Homo sapiens: one gene and its partner. The protein of the gene in region 2 purifies or fractionates together with the protein of the main gene of each other region. This does not show direct contact. Each region holds a gene or a part of one and is shown on either strand. Other genes may lie near its edges.

Region 1 (3,806 bases), on a different chromosome or scaffold from region 2:
CTATTTCCTTGACTAAGTTTAGGGGGCACCTGACCAGCCCCTGGTTGGGGGAAAAAGGCTGATGAATGGGTGACAAAGGGTCTCCAGCTCCACCCAACTTGTCAGAAAAGAGCCAGAACCCAAACAGTTACACGGGAAGAAAATGAACAAACCAGGCACTAAATAGCAAATGACTTCCTCTCCCCTAGGCATCCAAAACCAAGGGGATAGGTAGGGTCCCAAAAACGTACCCAGGCTCGGAAGCAGAATTAAGAACAGAGGAAAAAGACATCCTCTACTTTTTTCTCCAGAAGCAAACCTTTTCTTCCCAGAGCAAGAAGGACCACAGAGACCACAAATAATAAGGGGTTTGAGACTGTTAACACAGGAGTGGGACAGGGCTGAGTTGGTCCAGGCCTGGGTCCCCGCAGTGGCATTTCTGGGGACTTTGAGGATACACACAGGAAGGACAGGCAGGACCTGACAGTCTCAAGAACAAGGAGGACAGAGGACTGAGGACTGAGACTATGATGATCAGATCCCTTCTGCCCAGCTTCCTGTGCACTTTTATGCAGGACTGTTCTAGGCCCAGATGAAATGAGCGGAGCATGTGGTGAGTCCTGCCTAACTCCACCAGGGCCACATAATGAGGGTTATAAATACACAAGATATAAAGACACACATAATAAGACAGGCCCTGTCTTATTCACAGTGTGCACTCAGCACTGGGCGTCACCCACATCAGGCCTGTGATGAAAATCTATGTAATGAAGACATGAATGAATAAGACAATGAATGAATGAACCCCAGCCTGGCAGAGCTTTGTGTCCCAAGAGGAGCCTGCCTGACCCTCTTGACCTGGCTGGAGTCTCTGCTGAGAAACAGCCCCAGGGAGCAGAAGCTTGCCAAAATGTGCCAAAAAACCAAGGAGAATGTGCCAGCGTTTTCTCGCAACAGTTCCATCCCAAGACAATCATTTTCATGTGATGATTTTTAAGTGCTTACCTGGCTATGAAATCACCAGGCTGGGAATTCTCCGTCAACTGCTAAAAGCCAGGACAGAAAGGCAACGAAAGCTTTTTTTTTTCCCCTTTTCCCCATGTCCTTTCTTCGAAGCCACCACCAGGGGGCCTGCACCTATTCACAGAGCCATACACCAGCAATATTCTTTCCGGCTCTGTTTCCTTCTATATCTGGCTTTCAAAAGGGCAATTTATACATTCCCCCTCCTTCCCACAATTTAGGAGAGTGAAGCCATTCCAAGCTGGAAACTGTAATTTTGAAATGATGCAAAAAATTGAAGATAATGAAAAACATCTGAGTTCTGATACCTGGAAATGTCAGTTGCCTTATCCAAAGGCTCCTTTGTAGGAAAAAAAGCAACGATCAAGAGGGGGTTTTCTATCAGAAACAGCTGCTCAACAGAACAGACATCACCCCCAACCCCACCTCCCATCTCTCCCACCATCAAGGGAGGTCACTTATTTACTAGAACAGTCACGAACAAAGCATGAGATGGGAAGATAATTTTCCAGTCCCCTAGTGGCTCTAGCTATTGTTTGCAGTTAAAATGTACCTTCCAGGAATAAATGAAGAAACTCAAGGGTTTGCAAGCAAACTGCTCTGACAGTGTCTAACCCTTCACACACACACACACACACACACACACACACACACACACACACACACACACCCCACTACAAGCCAAGAGGGAGGAAGGACATGTTTGGACCATGAGTACCATGAGATCTTATGTGCTGAGAGCTAAGGAGAGCTTTAAGGATGATGTAGTTCATACCCCCACTTTGCAGATGGGAAAGTTTAGACAGGCTGAGCAACCTGACCAATGCGACTGAGTTAGTCAAGTATTAAAGCTTGGAATATAATTCAGGTCTCTTGATGCCGACAATTTAAAAAACAGCCAATGATCTCCCAGGGGAGACATAAAGACACACACACACACACACACGCGCAAATTTTAAAAAACCAAGTTAAAAAAAGGAAAGCAGAATCAAAGCTATGCTTTTCAAAAATCACGAATCTGCACATTATAAAAAGGCCTCCAATTACTCTCTATCCCCTAATAGTCCTGCTTTTAATCTCTCTCCACTGTCAGCTTTCTTATACGTAATATGATGGTAAATAATGCTAAAAAAACATGCCTGCACCACCACAGAATCATGACCACCCTACTCTCTGGGTTCAGGAAAATGAAAGAGGGGCTGCTGATACGAGAACCCCCTGGGCTGTCACTGCAGTGCTCCACATACCACATTCAACCACTAGTTACTGAACTAACTTGTGGCCCTGGAGCAGAAACTATACTGTTTTATCCACTTCCCTGGGTGAAACCAACAGGAAAGAAGGACACCCAAATCATCCAAAATTCACACTCATGTTTTAATATATTTCCAAAAACAATTTATTCCCACTGCCTCCCTACTCATCTTAAAGTGGAGCCTTCCCCATGTGACAGATACAACATGTTACATTCAATCTAACACTGATGCCAGGCACAGGGTTAAGTGCTCAATAAAAGTCTGCTGAATGACTTGATGAGCACTGCTTTTCATCTTTACGCTTTTCAGTATTTTCTGATGTTTCAAGAAGCATATATACTATTTTATAATCAGAAAGATATAATGCTACTTAAAAAAAATCTGTTTAATTCATTGCATTTACAAGTCAAAATGGACCTTACGTCTAAACAAGTCTCTACTGAAAAGGCTGTATGAGAAGACAGAAGATATTTTTAGTGGGGAAAGAACATGGAAATGAGCCAGTTTTATAAAATATCAGAGTGTCCATCACTCTCAGCTCCACCTCCCATGACCTAAGGACAGCACCAATTCTTTTGCTCAGCAAAAGTGGGAGGATGTCAGGCACATCTTCAGACTGCAATGACACTGTCTAACCACACACGAAAGCACATTGTGTCCCACTCCTACCTTGCAGCTGCAGCCAGGAGATTTTTCGCATTGGGAGCTCCTGGATCTACAGAGAGAGACTTGGCAGCTAACAGCAGCTTGCTGGATGCCATCGAGATATTCTTGAGGTTCCCTATCACTTGGATCTGGTCTTCTTTTGTCTGGAAGGTCAAAAGGAGCCGGAGCTATTAGGGCCTGTCCATTTCTTGAAGGAGGCATTCAGAGAGCTAGGAGCAGCATCCTGACATGCAGGCAGGTTATCCGTATAGATCACATTAAACCCAGTTAGCCCGCAGATGCCTAACTCGTTGAGACACTGACCAGTGTCTACCCTTCTCCAAACAGATGCTCAGATCAAGATGCATGCCACAGGGAAAGAAATCCATCCCCAAGTGGGTCAGCCAAGAGCTGTGCTTTTCTCACAACTAGAGGCATTAAGCGGGGAGCAGGGTGGGAGGAGAGTGAGCGAGCTGTGAGCCAATGCACAGACCAGGCAGCGATTCCAGCATCTTGCTCAACAATGCTGGAGTTGTCAAGGAGCTGTACATCTCGGCCTGGCACAAACGACCAGCACTGTCTCGATATTCAGAGCTGACTGCATCCCTGAAGTTCCTGACTCGGGAAAGCACACATTTCTCACCCGGTTGCCATCTGAGAAACAATTCTTTGTAGATACTAGAAGAAGATACACCCTGGTTATCTCTTTTAGGGAGGTCAAAGGAGCGCAGAAAAAAAAAAAAAAACAAAAAACACAGCTCTGCAAGCTGACACCAGATCAGTCAAGCTCCCTTGTTCTAAACAAGGGGTTTATCTGTTCATCTGAAGGAGGTAATTTTTAATCACTTGACACTCTGTATTAGACACAGACCATCTGAATGGTCCATTAAACCTCAAATACAT
Region 2 (4,337 bases):
CATAACAAGCGTTTGCTAAAAGTGAGCTGCTGTTATTATCCTTATCCTGGTGTGTCTCCCTCTTGATGAGCTAAATTTCAGTAGTATCTACCTCTCTTAAGCATTCTCTCCCATAGAAAAGCATTAAACAGACAAACGAGGATAACAAATGTCTGTACTCAATTCTTGGCAGCAATTAAGATATACATATTATGCTTCCTTAAGAAATTACTATTTAGATACACACAGCTTCTGCCAACAATATTTCTGACTAGCCTTGTGAGAGAAAAACTACACATTTAAAGCAAAGACAAATGTCATCTGAGCTTTCTTTATGTTCTTCCCATCACTTCTCTAACCACCAAACTAAGGGTTAGTCCGTTAACAACAAAAGCAGAAAACAGACACATATAACCTAAGCAAAACTACAAACTATCCCAACTATCTCCCCTGAAACTGTTAAGAATGTGTTTCTATGTCTTCTCTTTAAGGCATCTGAAAACAGATTCTAGATCTGAAATCCCACCCAGTGGAAGTTGCAATCAGCCATGAATGGGCGCGCTCAGACCTATTCTAGTAGAGTGAGGCTGTTGCTTAGAAAGGAGCTGTTCTTTGCCACAGAGCAGCAGCGACACACTATCCTAGCTTTCTTTTCCATGCGAGAATCTGTATTTGATGAATAACTTGCTCCATGCCCCAGTAGGAGGAGACATATTTAAGTTTGGCCTTTAGAATTGAGACAAATTTCAAAAATGTTAACACTTTGCTTTGAAATTGAAAATGAACCTATTCATTAAGAACAAAGTCCAAAAATTCTAAGTGGAAAAGTAACAGTACTTTCTTCCATCCCCTTTCACCTCAAAAGCTGCAGCTTGGTCTAACTCTTTGGCAGTGCTGCCAAGGAAACAAGCTGGAACTCAGCTTCCTGAGTCAAACCCTGACCAGGGTGGTGAGCGCATTTATCCCTTTGCAGAAGGGCAGCTCATGTTCATGTCTAGCCCCGAATCTTAGCCCAGGAACAAGGAAGAGCTCCAGGTTTCAAAATAAGAGAATCACACGGAAAGGCCATTACTTTCACGTCCTGAGTCAAGGGCAGCAAAAGGAGTGACATTCATGCCTGTAACCCATCTAAGGATTAAAGGCTGAAGAATAACACAGAAGAGTTTAAAATTGACTTTGCCCTTTGAAAAACAATAAGCAATTCTGGATTTGAAACCAACAATCATGTAATATTAAAAAGGCACCTAATTTGCTGTTTGAGGTACCTGTAATCCTCCCAGGACATGTGAGTTCCTGGAAAAAGCTGTCTCTTTTGTTGTTTTTGTTGTTGTTGCTGTTGTTGACAAAGTTGTTCAGGACAAAGAGACCCTGGGGTAGTCTCCATTGTGAGAAAGATCACCAGGAACCACCTTCATGCCCATGTGCTCTCTGGCTCCCCCTCCAGCCTGGTGGAGGACCTGGCTGAAAAATACTTGAACTCAGCAGTGCCAAAGATTTTCATAACTGCATGCAATGGAGCAACAAGTCTGAGAGCTAAGGGCCAGAAGACAATGCAAGCAGTTATTTCATAAATCCCAAGAACAGCAGTTTGGGCTTATGAAACCTTTCCTGGTTTCATGAATATTTCCGTTCTGCGCCCTCCCATGTCCCCACTGTGCCCCCTCATTCCACTGGCACTTGTTCCACATCTGCAAAGTTACAGCTGAGAGGGGAGAGGCACGGAAAGGAGAAGAGGAGGGAAACTGCGGAAAGGCCTGGTGCAGGTCCAGGGAGTCCTGTCTGGCTGAGTCGGGACAAGCTGCTTAAACTCGCCTGCCTGGTGACACACCCGTGGGCGGCAAGTGAACCAACCTGCCCTCCAGCGACCTTTCCCGTGATTATCGTCAGGGGCCCCGCCACCACTCGGCCTACTGCGTTGAGCTTCAGGAAACCATTCCTCAGTTTACTGATAAGAAAACTGAGGCCGCAGCCTTCGCGGGGCAGGTCCTGGGAGCTGGGAGATCCCGGCGCCATCCTAGCGGGGGCCGCACTTACTCTCCGAGTCGCTGAAGCCGCTGCTGTCGCTGACACTGGCGCTGCTGCGCCGCTTCATGCGCTCCAGGTGCTCCTCGTAGTGGAAGTGGCGCTCGTGGAAGGGCGACGCGAAGTCGGCCAGCACCGCGTCAAACTCGCACAGCGCGTCCGACAGGTCCTCCGCGGCCGCCGAGTCCAGGGCCGGGGCTGCGGGCAGGGCCAGGGGCTCAGTGCACGGAAGTCAGGGGGGCAGCGGGACCACCTCCCAGGGCCAGGAGGGGCCGCCACGGTTCCCGAAGATAACTGACACTTGGCGCCTCTGCCAAGTGACAGCCACGCAGTCGCTGTTACCTTGTAATCTTCTCCACCACCCCCGAAGTGCGTTCTATTACCAAGTCCGTTTTACAGACAAGAAAACTGAGCCTTCGCCAGGCCCAGGGTCACCCAGCGACTTGGCGCGGCCAGATTCCTCCCCAGGCGCTGCCGGTTACCTGTCCCCGCCGCTCCCCCCAACCCCGGGCGCGCGCGGAGCTGGTGGTGGAGGGAAGGTGGGACATGGGGGCCAGCCCGGGCCGGAAAGGAGGCTGCAGCCGCCCGCGCGGGAAGACCGGGGACAGGTTCCCGCCGGGGAGGATGGAAGGGTGGGGGGTGTGAAGGGACGACACGGGGCCCCTCCTTTCTCACCCGCCATCTGCAGAGCCGAGACTTTAAGGGGACCCCGGACCCCGCACTCACCTGCGGCCGCGGCGGCCGCGGGGCTGCCCTGCGCCGCGGGCGGCTTCATGAGGCGGCTCAGCTGGGCCCGGCGCGCGTGGCCTTGGGTCCTGCGAGGTGGCAGCCGGGGCTATTCGGGGGCTTGCTGTCCCGCACACTTCAGCCCTGCCAGTCCCTTCGGCGCTGCGCTCCAGCCGCGCCGCTCCCAGCACGGTCCGCGCCCGCCCTACCACCGGCTCGGGTTCCTAGATCTTATAGCCTTCGGCGGCCGGAGCGGAGGCGGGGCCGGGGCGGGGCTGCGGAGCCGGGGCGACGGGTCTGTCCCCGCCGCCCTCCGAGGAGGCCCCTGCCCCCAGGCACCGCCCTCGCCACGCGCCCGCCCTGGAACCGCGGTGACGAGGAGTCGCCGAAGCCCCGGTTACAGCCCCAAATATTTACCCGCCTCTCGCCCCCGCGCCCTGACAACCCGGCCCACGCGGTGTCCTCGGCGTCACCAGAGCTGACTGCTGGGCGCGAGCTCTGCTGCTTCCCGCCGCGTGCCAGGCACCTCCGCGAGCCGCAGCTTCCTCGGCTGTGAAGTGGACGTGGGCATGCAGAGCCTCCCTGGCTGGCGGTGAGGGACGAAGGAGCCCGCGGCCGTGTCCCAGTCGGGTGTCGGGGACGCGGAGGTCCCCTACGCATTGTCCCAAGGGGACTTCCGAGATGGTGGGCGGGCGGAGTGGAGAGGGTCGGGGCGAGAGGGGCAGGAGTTGGGGGAGTCCTGAACTGTTCCCACCGCGGAGCGCGGGGGCCTGAACTACGGTCCAGGGCGCTCCCGCCAGCCTGACTTTATCTAGAAGGGGTTTATTATGGGAAGAAACTACTGCGTCGACGCAGCGCGAACAGGGCGCCTTGCAGTGTCCACGGAGTAACGAGCCACCCTGCCCCGCGGCCTGCGGGGGCGAACGCCCTGGACTGTGCGCTGAGCTAGGCGCTAGCCTCTCGCCTCTCACCACAGACGGCTAATTAAATGTAGAGCAATTAACATGTAACGGAGTGAAACATTCAGCCTCCACTCCCAGCTAGTTTTTGTATTTTTAGCAGAGACGGGGTTTGTCCATGTTGGCCAGGCTGGTCTCGAACTCCCGACCTCAGGTGATCTGCCCACCTCAGCCTCCCAAAGTGCTGGGATTACAGGCGTGAGCCACCGCACCCAGCCAGGATTTGTTTTCAGAATATAGAAAGACCCATCTACAAAGTAATCACAAATAGACAACCTGGTAAAAATTAAAAATGAGCAAAACATTGAAACATACACCTCACAAAGGAGTATATGTTAATGACCACTAATCATATGAATAGTCCTCCTCTCTTGTCTACTCTGGGTGGCCTAGGGATATGCTTGTCTTGTGGAGGCACAAGCACTGTGGGCTCAAGAGTGGGGAGCCTCTTTCCCTGTTAAGGGGAGGACACCACTGGGATCTCTGGTGCCATCTCCTGCAATGGATCCTCTGATGTGGGGTCGAACAGAACTTCAGGAGTTGATTTCCCTGGGTGAGTGGAGCGGGATCCTTCCTTAGCTATCTGTCCCTTTGCTACTAGTATTGCTGCTGCATGCCCTCAGCCACTGTGGGGGTTCTAGCACCAGCTGT

What was found.
Region 1: the proteins of RGCC (region 2) and TLN2 purify together in Homo sapiens (affinity purification with mass spectrometry; 3 studies listed by BioGRID and IntAct, with this or other methods). This does not show direct contact.

The regions. Positions count from the first base shown.
Region 1 is NC_000015.10:62,739,891-62,743,696, reverse strand, and holds part of TLN2 (talin-2), read right to left. Parts: intron 3,068-3,806; coding exon 2,928-3,067; intron 1-2,927. UniProt on the Homo sapiens protein: As a major component of focal adhesion plaques that links integrin to the actin cytoskeleton, may play an important role in cell adhesion. Recruits PIP5K1C to focal adhesion plaques and strongly activates its kinase activity.
Region 2 is NC_000013.11:41,456,147-41,460,483, reverse strand, and holds the start of RGCC (regulator of cell cycle RGCC), read right to left. Parts: upstream 2,935-4,337; 5' UTR 2,777-2,934; coding exon 2,728-2,776; intron 2,200-2,727; coding exon 2,014-2,199; intron 1,513-2,013; exon of another isoform or gene 1,245-1,512; intron 1-1,244. UniProt on the Homo sapiens protein: Modulates the activity of cell cycle-specific kinases. Enhances CDK1 activity. May contribute to the regulation of the cell cycle. May inhibit growth of glioma cells by promoting arrest of mitotic progression at the G2/M transition.